Linked DNA regions of Homo sapiens: region 2 is linked to region 1. A link means that fine-mapping ties the variant in region 1 to the expression of a gene that starts in the linked region. Tissue or cell type: whole blood. Region 1 holds a variant in brackets; the other region holds the start of a gene. All regions are shown on one strand. Distances are between the middles of the regions.

Region 1 (8,103 bases):
CTGCTCAGAAGGGGCAGAGATGGGGCAAGGCCGCAGGGGCGGGAAGGCTGGGCCACACTCTGCCCCTTGTTGGCCCTCCTGGCCTGATGGAGGGCTGGGGTGCTGGTCCTCGGAGCGGTGGCCGGGTTCGGGAGGGGCCTGGCCCAATACACGGGCAAGGGTCACAGGCCAGCTACCTGAGGGGTGGCTCGGCGTACACACCTTGTCAAATTTCTTATGGCTGTAGACCTTGTTTTTGTTCATGAATGTTAGCAAGATCCAGTCGCACAGGAAGGAGCCCTGGGGCCAGCAGAGACCGGTGTGTAAGGGCCTGGTGGACCCCCCGCACCCGCTGGGACCCCAGAGAGGGTTCCTTACCACCCCGACGGAAGTCAGAGCTGTGGCCAGATTAATAATGGTGGGAATCAGGCTGAACTTCCCGGCCTGGGGAGAATGGGGGTCGTGGTCAGAATGTCTGACGGCGTCTGATGGGGCTTAAGGGAGGGGTGGGGCGTGAGGAGCTCAGACCCAGGCTAGCAGGGCTGGCCACCCACCCCCAGCAGGTGCAGGCACCTGTCCATGCACAATGACGTCAATGCGGATCCCGTAGGCCTTGATGAGCGTGCGGGTGGTGGTGCCATTGATCTTGTAGTATTTGGCAAACCTGCAATGGGAACGCCAGTGCCCACTCGTCCTCTGCACTCCAGGGCTGCCCCACAGGCATTGGGCCTCTCGGGACCCCACCACAGCTATGCCAGTGTGGACAGCGGTGTCCCAAGTACAGCACCTGAAGTTGTAGCCTGACGAGGCAGGCACGTGCTTGGGGTCAAGCCTCCGGAAGGAGTACTTGGGGTTGCACTCCGATGCAGGCAGGTCCAGGTCACAGTCCCAGTTGATAATGACCCCGATGACACCACCCTGCCAAGAAGGAGCCAGAGAAGGGGGTCAGGAGGGCACACGAGAGGCCCCTCGAGAGCCCGGGTCAGTCCCAGGCCAGGGAAGGGGGTCACAAGGGCACACGAGAGGCCCCTCGAGAGCCCGGGTCAGTCCCAGGCTGCATGTGAGGTGTGCACTGAGGGGCCCATGGGGCAGCTCAGGGGTACTGGTGGGCGTCCAGTGTCTGAGGCACAAGGGGTGCCAGCAGCCAGCCCCATGGCCAGTGTCAATAATTCAGCAAGCGCCACACCGGATGGGTTGCGCTGATCGCATTTCTTTTCCTCTGCCTGAGCGGGGCCAGCTGGTCAGGAGGGAGGAGGGACTGGTCCCCTGTACCCCAGGCCCTCTCTGTGCAGGTGGGAGCCCACCCTGGCCCCACCCTGCCTGCGCTTGCCCTGCCTTGTGTGCGAGCTCTGTGAAGCTCTCCCCAGCCTTCTCCACGATAAAGCCCAGCTTGAAGATGGGGCAGTAGAGGTCGGAGGCCTCGTGGAACGTGCAGCGCTTCAGGTACCCGTCTGTGCGGTCGGCGATGTTGCCCCTGAGGAGGCGGCAGGAGGCGAGACCTGCACCCCAAATACCCCATTCCCAGAAGGCAGCCCTCAGGCTGGGCCGTCACCACACCCCGCGGCTCTTACTTGGAGAAGTGGAATTTGGGGTAGTGGATGCTGTTCTTGATGAGGATGGTGAAATTTGGGGCCATCGTACCCAGAAATTGGCTGAGGAGGCACAGAAGGGTTGTTTAGTCCCCTCTTCCCGCAAAGCCCCCGCCTGGCATTGGCCCCCACCCCTCCCCAGATCTTGTCACTCCTGCCCCGCCCGTTTGGCCTCTGGTCAGGGGAAAAGGATCAGAGGGGAGGCTGGGCCCCAGGCCGGGGCGCAGGTGCACCTGACAGAGGCCCCATCTTCCACCGGGCACCAGCCGAACACCTCGCAGGTCTTGGAGGGCCCCTGGTAATAGGGCACACAGCGCCCAGTCCTCAGGCCTGGGAGGCAGAGGTCACTGAGGCATTAGCGGGGACGCAGCCCTGCCCCACCCGCCCAGCCCCAGCTGGCGCACACCGACCGTTTCCCAGCATGTCCAGCTCCCCAGCCACGCAGTCGGCGTCGGAGAGGCAGGTGGCGTTGTGGACCCTTATGCTCTAGGGTGGAGGCGGCCCAGTCAGGGACCCCGCAAGGGACAGCTGGCCCGCCTAGCTGAGGCGGGGTCCCCCAGCGCCGCGGGATCCCCTCACCTCGGGGCAGGTTCCCTGGGTCTGGGAGTGGGTGGCCTCGACCCTGGTGATGATGCTGAACACGCTGCCCCCCTGGGCTCAGAAAGAGGGGGCGGTCGGCCAGGCGGCAGCCGCTGCCCCCTCCGCCCACTAGGGTAGGGTGCACGGCGGGGCGGGGGGCAGGGGGCGGCCCGCACCTCGGGGGGCTTCACGTACTCCTCCACGTCCCACACTTTGTGCTCGGACGTGGTGATCCCCTTGACCTTGGTGATGATGGAGCTCTCGGGGCCCGTCTCGCTCTCCTGGTAGCTTTTCTGCACGATGAATACGTACCTGCGGGCAGGGGCGGCGCCGGCTCCGGAGGCGACCCTGGGAAGGCTGAGTCCCGCCCGCAGGCACGGCAGGGGCCCTCCCGCGACCCGGGTCCGCTCTGCGGGGCTCTTGGGGCCTGCCCCGCGCCCTCGGTCCCAGCCCCAGCCCCTGCCCCGCGCCCCCGGTCCCAGCCCCAGCCCCTGCCCCGCGCCCCTGGTCCCAGCCCCAGCCCCGCGCCTCCAGCCCAGCACCCCGAGTCCCAGCCCCTGCCCCACGCCCCCAGTCCCAGCCCCTGCCCCGCGCCCCCAATCCCAGCCCCTGCCCCGCGCCCCCGGTCCCAGCCCCAGCCCCTGCCCCGCGCCCCCGGTCCCAGCCCCAGCCCCAGCCCCGCGCCTCCAGCCCAGCGCCCCCAATCCCAGCCCCTCCCCTGCGCCCCGCACCCCGCGCCCCGCACCCCGCGCCCCGCGCACCACACGAAGTAGAGCAGGATGAGCAGCTGCACGGCGCGGTACAGGACCCCCAGGCGCCGGTTCCTCACCACGATCACCTTGGGCGTCTCGTAGTCCCAGAGGGCGGACCAGCAGCCCCGGGCCAGGCGCCGGGCGGTCGCCCCGGCGGGGTACTTGGGCTGGGCGGCGGCCATGGCGCGGGCGGCCCCCACCTCCAGGAAGGCGCTGCAGGGCTGAGGGTCGGCCCCGCTGCGCACCGAGAGCGGGGGGCGCGCGGCGGGCGGGTAGCTCGCGGCTCCGCCTCCGGGGTGCGGCCTCGAGCCCGCCCCGCCTCGCCCCGGCCCCGCCCCGCCCCGCAGGTGTCCCGGGAGTCCCGGGTGTCCCAGGTGGGGCTGGGAGCGGGGCCTCGCGGGGACAGAGCCGGGGGCGCGGCAGCCCAGCCCCAGCTCTTGGTCCAGGTGGGGGCCGAGCGCGGAACCGGCGGTCTCGAAGTTGGAGGGTCGGGATTCCCCGGGTGGGAACTTTTTCCGAGCTCGAGGAGAAAGACATGGGAAGTCCCGCCGGCCTCCGCGGCGCCCCCCACCCCGTCCAGGCCGGTTCCTGCCGCGGCTGCCGGGGCTTCGAGCGCAACCTGCACTCCCGCCTTTGCCAGCAGACGCCTCGCTTCCAGCTCCTGCCTCCGCCGCAGCTCCAGCCCTCGAGCTGGAGAGGGATCCACGGCCGATCCGTTTTCTTCTTTGCAAGCCAGAGTTTTCTTTCTTTCTTTCTTTCTTTTTTTTTTTTTTTGGTAACTTTTCGAACCTCCACCCCACCCACATTATTTTGAAGCAAATCCCAAGCATCACAGTTTTTCACAAAATAATTTTAAAATAGTTTATTATGATAAAATCAGCATAGCATGTAATTAACTATTTTAAAGTAAACAATTCAGTGACATTCACAACATTGTGCAACCACCACCGCCTCTGTTTCGTCCCCAAACACTTTCCCCACCCCAAAATAAAACTCCCATCCATTAAGCAGTCACGACCCGTTCCACACTCCTCCCATGCCCTGGCAACCACTGGTCGCTTTTCTGTCTCAGTGAATGGACTTGCCTGTTCTGGATATTTCATATCAAGGAAATGCAATATTTGTTTCTGGGTTAATGCCTTTTCTGTCTGGCTTCATTCACTGAGCATGTTTTCAAGGTTCATCCACATTGTAGCATGTGTCAGGGCATCACCCCTTCTTATGGCCAGGAGAAATGTCTAGGCTATCCAAAGAAGGAATTTAGATTGCTTTCAAACTAACTCTGTGAATAGTGCTGTTATAAACACTGGTGCATAAGTATTTGTTTGAACTGTTAAATTAACTCAATTAACAGGCTGCCTCTGTGCCTTGAGTTTCTAGGTAACAACAAACTGCAACCTAATGTACCACAGAAACAAGCTAAAAGCTTAACCTATGAGTATATTTTGGAACAAATAGCTGGGTCTCAGCCAGTCACAGGCTGCTAACTGATCTGATCATGCCATATAAGGCAAACATTTCAAGCAGTAACAAAATCAAGCTAATTGTGATTTTTTTTTTTTTGTATCTCACTTCTGTGTTCTATCTATAAAAACTTCCTGCCCACATTACAGAGTGGAGCTCTCGAACCTCCCCCATTGGTTCTGAGTGCTGCCCAATTCATGAGTTGTGTTTTGCTCAATTAAACTCTGTTGGCTGGGCACAGTGGCTCATACCTGTAATCCCAGCACTTTGGGAGGCCAACATGGGTGGATCACTTGAGATCAGGGGTTCGAGACCAGCCTGGCCAACATGGCGAAACCTCGTCTCCACTAAAAACACAAAAGTTAGCCAGGTGTTGTGGCATCTGTAATCTCAGCTACTCGGGAGGCTGAGGCAGGAGAATCACTGGAATCTGGGAGGTGGAGGTTGCAGTGAACTGAGATTGCACCACTGCACTCCAGCCTGCATGACAGAGGGAGACTCTGTCACACACACACACACACACACACACACACACACACA[CACACACAA/A]ACTCTTAAATTTAATTTGTCCAAAGTTTTTGTTTTAACAGTTTGGTGTCAGAAGTGGGATCTGAAGTAGACCTCCAGCCACCCCCTAGGAGCACTGAATGCTCAGTAGGGCCTGTGTGCCTGCTGATCTCTCAAAGCATCTAGAGTCATAGGTGAGTTCTCTCTGCTGGATTTGTGCTCTATGACCATGTGTTTTGAGCCCTCTACTTTGAGCAATTCTTTTTTTTTTTGAGATGGAGTCTCACTCTGTTGCCCAGGCTGGAGTGCGGTGGCGTGATCTCAGCTCACTGCAACCTCCGCCTCCCAGATTCAAGCAATTATCCTGTCTCAGCCTCCCAAGTAGCTGGGATTACAGGCACATGCCACCGCGCCCGGCTAATTTTTTTGTATTTTAGTGGAGACGGGGTTTCACTGTGTTGCCTGGGCTGGTCTCAAACTCCTGAGCTCAGGCAATCCACCTGCCTTGGCCTCCCAAAGTGCTGGGATTACAGGCATGAGCCACGGCGCCCGGCCTTGAGCAATTCTTAGACCGGAATGGGTCCAGGATTGAATTGGATCCAAAACTTAACTCTATTGTATCCAGTTAGAGGCCTTGAGTAGGTCCCTTTTGGCTTGGGTTTGTCTGAATCCAAGGAGTCTGCGTGCCGCCTTCTGGGACGTTTGCTAATTATGTGTGTAAGAACTATGGACCCAGAACTTGTGCACATTTTAGAAAAATCGGCTAACCCCAAACTCAAAAAGACCCCTCCAGATTCTTGGAACCGTACACCTTTCGGAGACCTTAAGGTGAAGCTAACCAGGGAAGTTTTCCCCAGAAGCAGACGGGATCCTAAATGTGGACAGCTTTTCCAAGATCATGGGTTGAGACTTCTCTGCCATCATGACAGCCTTAGCCTCCCCCTGGCCCCTTATTTCCTGCTGTCTGAATCTTTTCCTTTTCATTACAGGAAAATCCACAGCACCATAATGTGTGGATGGCGTCAGCTAAGGCTTACGCTCTAGGAAAAACCCAGAGTGGTAGTTGGGTTTGTGGGTTAATGTCAAAAGCCAGGAAACTACATCAATCCCTGTCATTTTTCACGATGACGGTCACTCTGGAACTCCCAGGGGAGAGTGGAGAGCGTCCCCATGTGTCCCAGGGGAGACTGGAGAGTGTCCCCATGTGTCCCAGGGAAGAGTGGAGAGAGTCCTCGTGTGTCCCAGGGAAGACTAGAGAGCGTCCCCGTGTGTCCCGGGGGAGAGTGGACAGCCCATATGTCCCAGGGGAGAGTATCCCCGTGTGTCCCAGGGAAGAGTGGAGAGCGTCCCCGTGTGTCCCGGGAGAGAATGGACAGTGTCCCCGTGTGTCCCAGGGGAGAGTGGACAGTGTCCCCCTGTGTCCCGGGGGAGAGTGGGGAGCGTCCCCATGTGTCCCAGGGAAGAGTGTTCCCGTCCCTGTGTCCCAGGGGAGAGTGGAGAGCATTCCCGTGTCCCAGGGGAGAGTGGGGAGTGTCCCCGTCCCTGTGTCCCTAGGAAGAGTGGACAAACACACTCTCCTTTATGTTCCAGACACCGCTGCTATCACTTTCATATACCCGCTGAAACGGTGTTCTGACCTTTCCAATTAATAATCCAAACACTGCTCATATGTAAAGCGTGCCTGAACGATGCCTTCAGAAGGTAGATGAGGCTCCAGGCATCACATACTCAAGACCTGGGAGTTCTCTCTGTGGGTGGGAGACACGGCATGTGTGATGTCACTGGATTGAGTCCAGTGAGGTCCCTTTCCATTAACTGTGGTTACACACCCTCACAGCACACTGTAAAGGGAAAAGCTTCATACCGGAGCTTTTCCGCTGGACCTGCTTCGGGAGCTGTACTGACATGTGGGTGAAAACGTGTCACTGACTTCTGCTCAGATGCCACCAGGTGGCGCCCTTTTCCAGCCCCCGAGAGCTTCTGCTGGGTCTGTGGAGAATCCGCTGTTGGGCCTCCTCACTGGTTTGAATCTTGCAATTTGGTCCGGCTCAGTCCTGCCTTCCAAGTAGCTTCCCCTGACAGTTCCCACCCAGGATACCTCCCATAATCGGAGGCCAAAGCAGTCAACAACCAAAATTAGCACCAGCCTTGAAATAAATGAAGTTAGTTTTCACTGAAGAAAGTTTCCATTAGAATTCTTGGTGGTGGTGAGGTGCTGGTTGTGTGGAATTCTAACCTAATTAGTAAATTGGGGAACATCTTGGGCTTTGTGGCCAACCCGACCTCCCAGGATTTTTTTTCCCCCCAGAACTCCATGAGTTCACTCCCAGGGATTTAGACGGGTGGAAGTCACGCTCTGAAAGGTGGATTACTAGAAATCACACAGCTTTAGGTCTGTTAAAGGATATCTGCAAAACAACAAACAAACAAACAAAAACCCAGTTAACAACTTTCTTCCTAAAAATTATTTTTTATTGTAATAAAACATTTAACATGAGACCCACCCTTTTAACAACATTTTAATTGAACAATACAGTATTGTTAACTACAGGTGTGATGTTGTATAGCAGACCTGGAACATACTCATTTTGCATAACTGAAACTGAAACTTTATCCCTGTTCAGGAGCAATTCCCTTTTACCCTCTCTGCAGCCTCTGGCAACCACCATTCTACTCTCCACTTCTATGAGTTTGACAACATAATTTTTTTTCATAATTTTTTTTGAGATAGGATCTCACTCTGTTGCCCAGGCTGGAGTGCAGTGGTGCAATCCTAGCTCACTGCAGCCTTGACCTCCGGGCTCAAGTGACCCTCCCACCTCAGCCTCCTGAGTAGTTGGGACCACAGGCACGTGCCACCACGCTAGGCTACTTTTTCCATTTTCTGTAGAGACAGGGTCTCACTGGGTTACCCATCAGCCTGGTCTCGAACTCCTGGGCTCAACTGATCTTGCCTTGGCCTCCAAAAGTTCTGGAATTATAGGCACGAGCCACTGTGCTCAAGTGACAACATAATTCTTTTTTTTTTTTTGAGATAGTATTTGACTCTGTCACCCAGGCTGGAGTGTGGTGGTACGATCTTGGCTCACTGCAACCTCCACCTCCTGGGTTCAAGCGATACTCTTGCCTCAGCCTCCTGAGTAGCTGAGACTCCAGGTGTAAGACACCATGCCTGGCTAATTTTTTATTTATTTTTTGGTAGAGATGGGGTCTCCCTATGTTACCCACGCTGGT
Region 2 (8,103 bases), 340 kb before region 1:
TGTTTTAAAGATCAAAGACTGAAAGGGAAAGAGTTGTTGGATCTGGTATGCTGCTTAATAAGGATTATTTATTGAAGAGTCACTTTTCAATAGATGTCTTGGTGAAACCCAGTAATTTTGGGCACTTAGGGCACTAGGAGATTTTTGTATTTTTTTTGTTGAGGGGAGTCTTATGGGTCCAACGTATGTCATGAACGATGAGCTTAAAGTTTCACAAAACCTAAGTCACTAAATTATCTTGTGGCTGGGAGAAAGAGTGTCTTATCTTTAAGACTTATCTCTGTCTTTATACAAAGTTTTTTTTACTGGCTTTGGTCATTTAAAATGGGACTTCAGATGTGCCAAATGAACTGAACTTAAGAGTTTAGCCAGTTTTTTTTTTTTTTAAACTTACAAGTTTTACTTAAGCCATGGAATTTTTTTTTAGAGAGAGAAACTGTTTTCTTTCCTGACCAAAATTGGAATGAAAGAAAAGGCCATGGCCATGCTCAGTGGCTCATGCCTGTAATCCCAGCACTTTGGGAGGCCAAGACAGGCGGATCACCTGAGGTCATGAGTTCGACACCAGCCTGGCCAACATGGTGAAGCCTCGTCTCTACAAAAATACAAAAAATTAGCCAGGCATGATGGTGGGTGCCTGTAATCCCAGCTACTCGGGGGGCAGAGGCGGGAGAATTGCTTCAACCCAGGAGGCAGAGGTAGCAGTGAACTGAGATCGCGCCACTGCACTCCAGCCTGGGTGACAGAGCAAGACTCCATCTCAAAAAAAAAAAAAAAAAAAAGGCGTATAAATTCTAGTAAGTCATTTAATAAATGACACGCTTAACCTCGGAGAAAAGTGAAAATCATAAATCTGTGAACAGCAAAATTTTCTGAGAACAAAAACAAAACTACCTTAAAGCAGAATTTTAATTTTAGCTCTGTTGAGCATGGAATTGGTTTGCTTAAATAAAGTTGAATCTCAGTTAGAAGCAGGGCAATGTGGGCTGGGTACGGTGGCTCAGGTCTGTAATCCCAGCACTTTGGGAGTCCGAGACGCATGGATCACCAGAGGTCAGGAGTTTGAGACCAGCCTTGCCAACATGGTGAAACCCATCTCTACTAAAAATACAAAAAGTAGCTGGGAGTGGCTGGGCGCAGTGGCTCACGCCTGTAATCCCAGCACTTCGGGAGGCCGAGGCAGGCGGATCACGAGGTTAAGAGATCAAGATCAGCCTGACCAACATGGTGAAACCACGTCTCTACTAAAAATACAAAAATTAGCCGGGCGTGGTGGCGCACGCCTGCAATCCCAGCTACTCGGGAGGCTGAGGCAGGAGAATCACTTGAACTCAGGAGGCGGAGGCTGCAGTGAGCCGATATTGTGCCACTGCACTCCAGCCTGGGCGACAAGAGCAAAACTCCATCTCTCACAGGCTCCAAATTTACTAATATAGAATTGAGCAAAATATTATTTCATATATACTTTAATTTGGTCTTTATGGCCATTTCAATTTTTTAAATTGCCAATTGTGAGTGTGTTTCCTGTTTCTCCCCATTTTTATTTTAAAAAACTAATATGCTTTTACAGTTTTTCTTTTTCTTTTTTTTTTTTTTTAGACAGAATCTCACTCTGTCTCCCAGGGTGGAGTGCAGTGGTGAGATCTCAGCTCACTGCAACCTCTGCCTCCTGGGTTCAAGCAATTCTCATGCCTCCACCTCCTGAGTAGGTGGGATTACAGGTATGAGCCATTACAGGCATGAGCCACCACACCTGGCTAATTTTTATATTTTTAGTACAGATGGGGTTTCACCATGTTGGTCAGGCTGGTCTCGAACTCCTGACCTCAGGTGATCCGCCCGCCTTAGCCTCCCAAAGTGCTGGGATTACAGGTGTGAGCCACCGCGCCTGGCCTGGCCAAAAAATATTTTTAAGAGAAGGTGTCTCCCTCTGTGGCCCAGGCTGGAGTGCAGTGTTGCCATCATAGCTCACTGCAGCCTCAACCTCCCAGGCTCAGGCAATCCTCCTGCCTCAGCCTCCAGTAGTTGGGACTACAGGGACAAGCCACTGCTTTATATATCCATAAATATATTTTATTTCCCTGTAATGTCCTCATCTCATTTATTTTTCCTTTTTTTTTTCTTGAGATGAGGTCTCACTCTGTTGCCAGGCTAGAGTGCAGCGGCATGATGGCTCACCGCAACCCCCGCCTCCCGAGTTCAAGTGATTCTCCTGCCTCAGCCTCCCGAGTAGATGGGATTACAGGCGCCCACCACCACGCCCAGCTAATGTTCTGTATTTTTAGTAGAGACGGGGTTTCACCGTGTTGGCCAGGATGGTCTCAATCTCCTGACCTGGTGATCCGCCCACCTCAGCCTCCCAAAGTGCTGGGATTACAGCCGTGAGCCACCGCGCCCAACCCTATCATCTATTTTCATTCCTTTTGTCAATACTGCTGGATTGGATGTACTAAATGTAAGGTCCTCTGAGCTGGCCGCACCATGGTCAAGCCATCGTGACATTCCCCCACCCTTGTGATAATGTACTTTGTAATATTCCCGGTCCTTGTGAATGTACTTTGTAACATTCCTCTCCGCCCTTGTGACAATACACCCTCCCCGCCCTTGTGAATGTACTTTGTAACATCCTCCCCTGCCCGCAAAAAATTGCTGCTGAGGCCGGGCGCGGTGGCTCACGCCCGTAATCCCAGCACTTTGGGAGGCCGAGGAGGGCGGATCACGAGGTCAGGAGATCAAGACCATCCTGGCTAACACAGTGAAACCCCGTCTCTACTAAAAATACAAAAAAATTAGCCGGGCGTGGTGGCGGGTGCCTGTAGTCCCAGCTACTCAGGAGGATGAGGCAGGAGAATGGCGTGAACCCGGGAGGCGGAGCTTGCAGTGAGCCGAGATCGCGCCACTGCACTCCAGCCTCGGCGACAGAGTGAGACTCTGTCTCAAAAAAAAAAAAAAAAAAAAAAATTGCTGCTGACTCCACCGCCTATCCTATCCCAAAGCTATAAGAACCAATGACAAGCCCACCACCCTCCGCTGACTCCTTTCTCAGACTCAGCCCACTTGCACCCAAGTGAATAAACAGGCGTGTTGCTCACACTTAGCCTGCTCAGGTGGTCTCCTATACGGACGCACGTAACACTAACATTTACCGATATTACTTACAGCTACGATGAAAAATGGAAAAGCAGCCGGACGCAGTGACTCATGCCTGTAATTCCAGCATTTTGGGAGGCTGGGGCAGGAGGATCATTTGAACCCAGGAGTCGGAGACCAGCCTGAGGCTGCAATGAGCGTTCATGGCACCACTGCACTCCCCACTGGGTGACAGAGCGAGACCCTGCCTCCAAAAAAAAAAAAAAAAAAAACAAGGAAAAGATGCAGACGCTTCCTCCTGGAGGCGCCTTTAGGTTCTCTCACAGACATGTTGGGCCAGCAGTGCTGGCTCCATCCTAGATTTCTTCCAGTCCTCCCCAGTTAGCCGCCAAGGGGCTTTTCCAACCGGAAACCTCCAATCCGCGACCCCGGCGGGTGCACCGCCGAGCCCCCCGGGAAGTGTAGTTCCAGCGCGAGCGGGACGCTGGGAAATGTAGTTCTGCGCGTTCACGTCCCCGATCGGGCCGTGTCCGCCGCGGCCCTGCGAGGTCCGAGGGGTAAGGGAGCGTGCAGCGGGGGCGGGACCACGAGGCGGCGGGGCTGGGGGCGGCCTCTGTGTCTGCGCCGGGGATCGCGGTGACCCCGCTGCGGACCGGCTCGCGGTGACCCCAGCGCGAACGAGCTGGCTGCCGGCTGGGGCGAGAAAGGCCTGCGGACCGGCCTGGGCGCATGCGCGGAAGGCGGGCCTCAGGCGGGGGCTCTGGGGGCGCGCGGGGGTGGGAGGCAGAGGGTGGGGTGGGGGCTGTAGGGCGGGCGGCGGCGGGGCGCTGAATGTGGGTGTCGGGGGAGATTTGGGGTCAGCTGGGCGATTCACTGGGGGCCTATGGAGGTCGCTGTAGACTTGGGGTGCAGCACGGGCGGGGCAAGGGGACGCGAGGTTGCCCTTGGCCCCAGGGGAGAGGGGCCCCTGGGAGGCCGTGTGGAGGATTTGTCTGCAGCGATTAGGACTCTGCTGATGAATGATTTGGATGCCTTTGGGTGAGCATTGGAGGCCAGCGGGGTGAATGATGAGGCTTCTGCGGGGGCCTGCGTTGGAGGGCTTAGGGGCTTGCTTGTGTGGGTTCCATTCACTGGAAAGCCTGCCGGCTGTGACAGTGTTGGATTTCACCAGAGCCCTGTGCTCCTGGAAAACAGCGAAGGTTGAGGAATTTCCCACCCTTTTGGGTTCCAGCAAATGGCTCACTGCAAAGATCTCCCGTTCCCTATATGACTTTGGTCAGCCTCCAGGATGCCCCTTGTTCACACAGACCTGCCACGTTGCCGTCGCTTGCCTCATCGGTGACTGGCTGAACTCCACCGAGCGGTCGGAGCAAAATGCTCCTTAAGCAAACTTTAGCTAAGCTTCTTTCCTTTCCCCATTTTCTTGAGCTTTGGCCCATCCCCAGCCTGAGCCAACACGCAGCCTCGCCTGAGAACAGGCTGGCTCAGGGTCAAGCTTTCCCCGCTCTGCTGTCTGGTCGCCCGCACTTCCACCTCGCTTGGCCAGGCCTGGTCTTTGCTAACCTTGTTCACACCTCTCTGTGAAAGAAAAACCCTTTTTGCCTTGCAGAGATGCACGTGAGTCTCGTGGCTTCACGGTTCTTCCCAGAAGCCCGTTCTCCTTCCCCTTCCCAACCCTCTTCCGCGTCTTTTTTTCCCCACTTCCAATAACCCTTTGGAACCGTCTTTCTTTGCTCTGTCCAGTTGTATGTTTTATTTGACAGCTGAATAACAGTGGTTGCTCTTTCAACCCCTGTCTCCAATAGCGGAGGCGAGTATGGGGTGGCCTATGCTGGCGAGTGGCTGGGGTTTGTTTCTGTGCTTGTGTTTGGGGATCTTATGATGGAAGCATTAGGAATGGCGCTGTGTATTTGTGACAAGGGAGTCTGGATGTAAGTTAATGGTGGACCTGTTGCAAGTTGTGAGTGCGTGGACAACGGGGGTCATACTTGGCGTCATTGGAGGGGCCTGCGGGATCGGCATTTGTGCAGAGCCCCACAATCCCTTTCCAGGTGGTGTTTGGGAGGGCCTGTGGGAATGTCAGTGAATGCTCCAGCATGGAGTGGATTAGAGAATGGGGTGTCATGGGGGCGAATGCTTGGGGGCCCCGGGGATAAGGGATTAGGGATCCCTGGGCATTGAGTGACTGGGGTCTAATTTAGGGGGTCTGTGGCGCAAGCCTCAGAATGTCAGTTACAGGGGAGGGGCTCTGTGAGCGCCTGACTTGGGCACCTGATGAAGTGAGTGAATGGAGACCAGTGTGTTCGTCCCAGGACAGAAGCCCCTTCTCCTCCCCTCCCCACCCTTCTCCTCCCCTCCCTACCCTTCTCCTCCCCCATCCTTCTCATCCCCTCCCCACCTCACCTGCAGGAGTGACTGAAGCCCCTTCTCCCCCGCTCCCCACCCTTCTCCTCCCCTCCCCAGCTCATCTGCAGGAGTATCTGAGTTCTGTGGGGATCCTTTGGGACTCAGAGTTTGGGGTTTCAGTCTGTGGTGATTCTTAAGTGGGGCTTTGGGGGTGCTGGTGATTATGGTGTCTGGCATCTGTATTTAAAAGCCCTGTGGGAGTCACTGAGGTCCAGTCATCAGTTGGGCCTGTAGGGATAACTCTGCCTGGCCTGTGAGGTCTATGGTGTGACGTAGGAATGGTAAGTGTCTGGGGGCCTGTGGAGGATTAGGAATAAAGGGTCCAGTGTACATCGTTGAATGGGGGACAGTTTTATTGGCTCGTGCCCTGGCATTGGCTTTGTTATTTGAGGGTGTTGGAACCAGGTGAGAAGGAGCTTGTTTGTATTAGTGACCGGGTACCAGAGATGACTGAATGACTGATGGGGTGGGCAGTGAGGTCTGTGAGGAGGAATGATCGGAGGGCTTGGGATCAATGCCAAGTATGCGTGCAAGTGTCTGTGATGGGTGTGCGGGTGGGTGAGGGTGAGAAATTGGGGACCCTGTGGGTGTCAGTGAGAGGGAAGCCTGGGGAGCCTAAGAGTTTGTTTGCCATTTGCGGTGAATGTGGAGTTAGAAGTTAGTGGCCTTAGCTGGGCACCGTGGCTCACACCTGTAATCCCAGCACTTTGGGAGGCTGAGGCAGGCAGATCAGGAGGTCAAGAGATCCACACCATCCTGGCCAACATGGTGAAACCCCGTCTCTACTAAAAATACAAAAATTAGCTGGGCATGGTGGTGGGCGCCTGTAATCCCACCTACTCAGGAGGCTGAGGCAGGAGAATTGCTTGAACCCAGGAGGCAGAGGTTGCAGTGAACCGAGATTTTGCCACTGCACTCCAGCCTGATGACAGAGTGAGACTCCATCTTAAAAAAGATAATAATAAGTTAGTGGCCTTTGGGTATCTGTGATTAGTGGTCTATACTGTGCCAGTCTGTGGAGTCTGTGGTCAGGTGTTTCTGGAGGCTGTTGTGGGGCCACTAGAGTTACCGCCTGGGGTCTTTGTTGGATGGTCACTGGGGAACCCATAGTGTGTGTCTCTGAAGGCCCTGGAGGGGCGGCCTCTTGGGGAGAGAGACTGGGTGGCCTGTGAAGTCAGCCATTGTGGTCCTGTGGGAGTGATGGGGGCACATGGGGTGAGTGAGAGTGGGGTTGATGGGGTTCGGTGGTTGTGTGGTCTGGAGGTCTGTGAAGCAGGCCTATTGGATTCAGTGATCTGGGGATGTCTTGGGATGTGGACCTGGAGAATTCTCAGGTGGTCACTGTGAGTGACTGGGGGACTTGGGATGCTGGAGGTTGGCAGGGGCTTGGAGCTGCGGAGTTCAGTGGTTTGTGTCTGGGGTGTGTGTGTGATGGAGGCCCTCTCTGGGACTTGGTAATCCGGGGAACTTGGCAGGGCCGTGTTGGTGGGTCTGGAAGCAGATCCGAATGTGAATGGGTCGTGGGTTGGCTCAGGCAAGCCTCTCGTGAGTGACAGGTCTTTTTGCCCTTTGGCCCTCTCCTTGTAGCTTGTGACCGCTGATCAGTGATCACTCTTTTTACGTGATTATTTCCTTTTTTAAAAGTTCTCAGTGACCCCGTTGGCCTTAAGGTCTTCTCCTTGTAGAATTTCCCCCTTGCTGTTTGTACCTCCTAGGCCTCTTCCATCCCTCCTGATGACCTCCGGCTCCCCCACCCAAGACCTTTGCATCTGAGGTGCCTGGAGTGGTGTGGTCGGCCCAGCCTTCCGTGGCGGACTGCTCCTGCTTCAGGCTCAGCTAAAAGCCACCTCCTCCCACAAGCCTCTACGACGTCTGGGAGGAATATCTTCTGCCCATTCATCCCTTGGTCACAGTTAAAATTTCCTTTTTTTTTTTTTTTTTTTGAGACAGAGTCGCCCATGCTTGAGTGCAGTGGCGTGATCTCAGCTCACTGCAACCTCCATCTCCTGGGTTCCAGTGATTCTTCCGCCTCAACGCCCCCAGTAGCTGGGATTACAGGTGCCCGCCACCATGCCCGGCTAATTTTTTGTATTTTTAGTAAAGATGGGGTTTCACCATGTTGGCCAGGCTGGTCTCGAACTCCTGACCTCAAGTGATCTGCCTACCGCCTCAGCCTCCCAAAGTGCTGGGATTACAGGCGTGAGCCACCGCGCCTGGCCCACAGTTAAAATTTCTTCTGAGCGCTCACAGTCAGAAATCATTTATTTACTTGGCTGTTTCCCTAGAGGGCAGAGACACCGTACATCTTGTTGAGTGGTCTTTCCCGTGTGCTCAGAACAGTGCCTGGTGTGTAATAGGAATTCAGCAAATGCTGCTTTCGTAGCGAGTAAATGAGACTGTGTGTGTGTGATGTGTGTGAACGTGTGTGTATGTGATGTATGTACGTGTGTGGGAATGTGTATTGTGTGATGTACGTATGTGTTTGAATGTGTGTGATGTGTGTATGAGTGTGTATGTGTGTATGAGTGTGAGTATAGTGTGTGATGTATGCGTGTATGTGTATGTGTGGTGTATGTGTATGTGTGTGATGTGTGATGTACATGTGTA

The links. PIP is the estimated chance that this variant, and not a neighbour inherited with it, causes the effect.
Region 2: ZNF605 starts here. The variant in region 1 is fine-mapped to the expression of ZNF605 in whole blood (INTERVAL, PIP 0.94).

The regions. Positions count from the first base shown.
Region 1 is chr12:132,613,795-132,621,897 of GRCh38, reverse strand. P2RX2 (purinergic receptor P2X 2) reads right to left here and starts at 3,122. Exons shown (of 11, transcript NM_170682.4): 1 at 2,909-3,122; 2 at 2,324-2,459; 3 at 2,148-2,219; 4 at 1,979-2,054; 5 at 1,802-1,898; 6 at 1,551-1,631; 7 at 1,315-1,453; 8 at 767-897; 9 at 553-643; 10 at 358-423; 11 at 1-279. The coding sequence starts at 3,081. The variant CACACACAA/A (reference allele first, on the strand shown) is at 4,904.
Region 2 is chr12:132,951,787-132,959,889 of GRCh38, reverse strand. It overlaps ZNF605 (zinc finger protein 605), which reads left to right and starts at 3,584. Exons shown (of 5, transcript NM_183238.4): 1 at 3,584-3,647. It overlaps LOC124903064 (a long non-coding RNA gene), which reads right to left and starts at 3,341. Exons shown (of 2, transcript XR_007063552.1): 1 at 3,160-3,341. RefSeq lists enhancers at 3,374-3,453, 3,207-4,035, 4,313-4,607, 4,036-4,866 and a silencer at 3,614-3,953.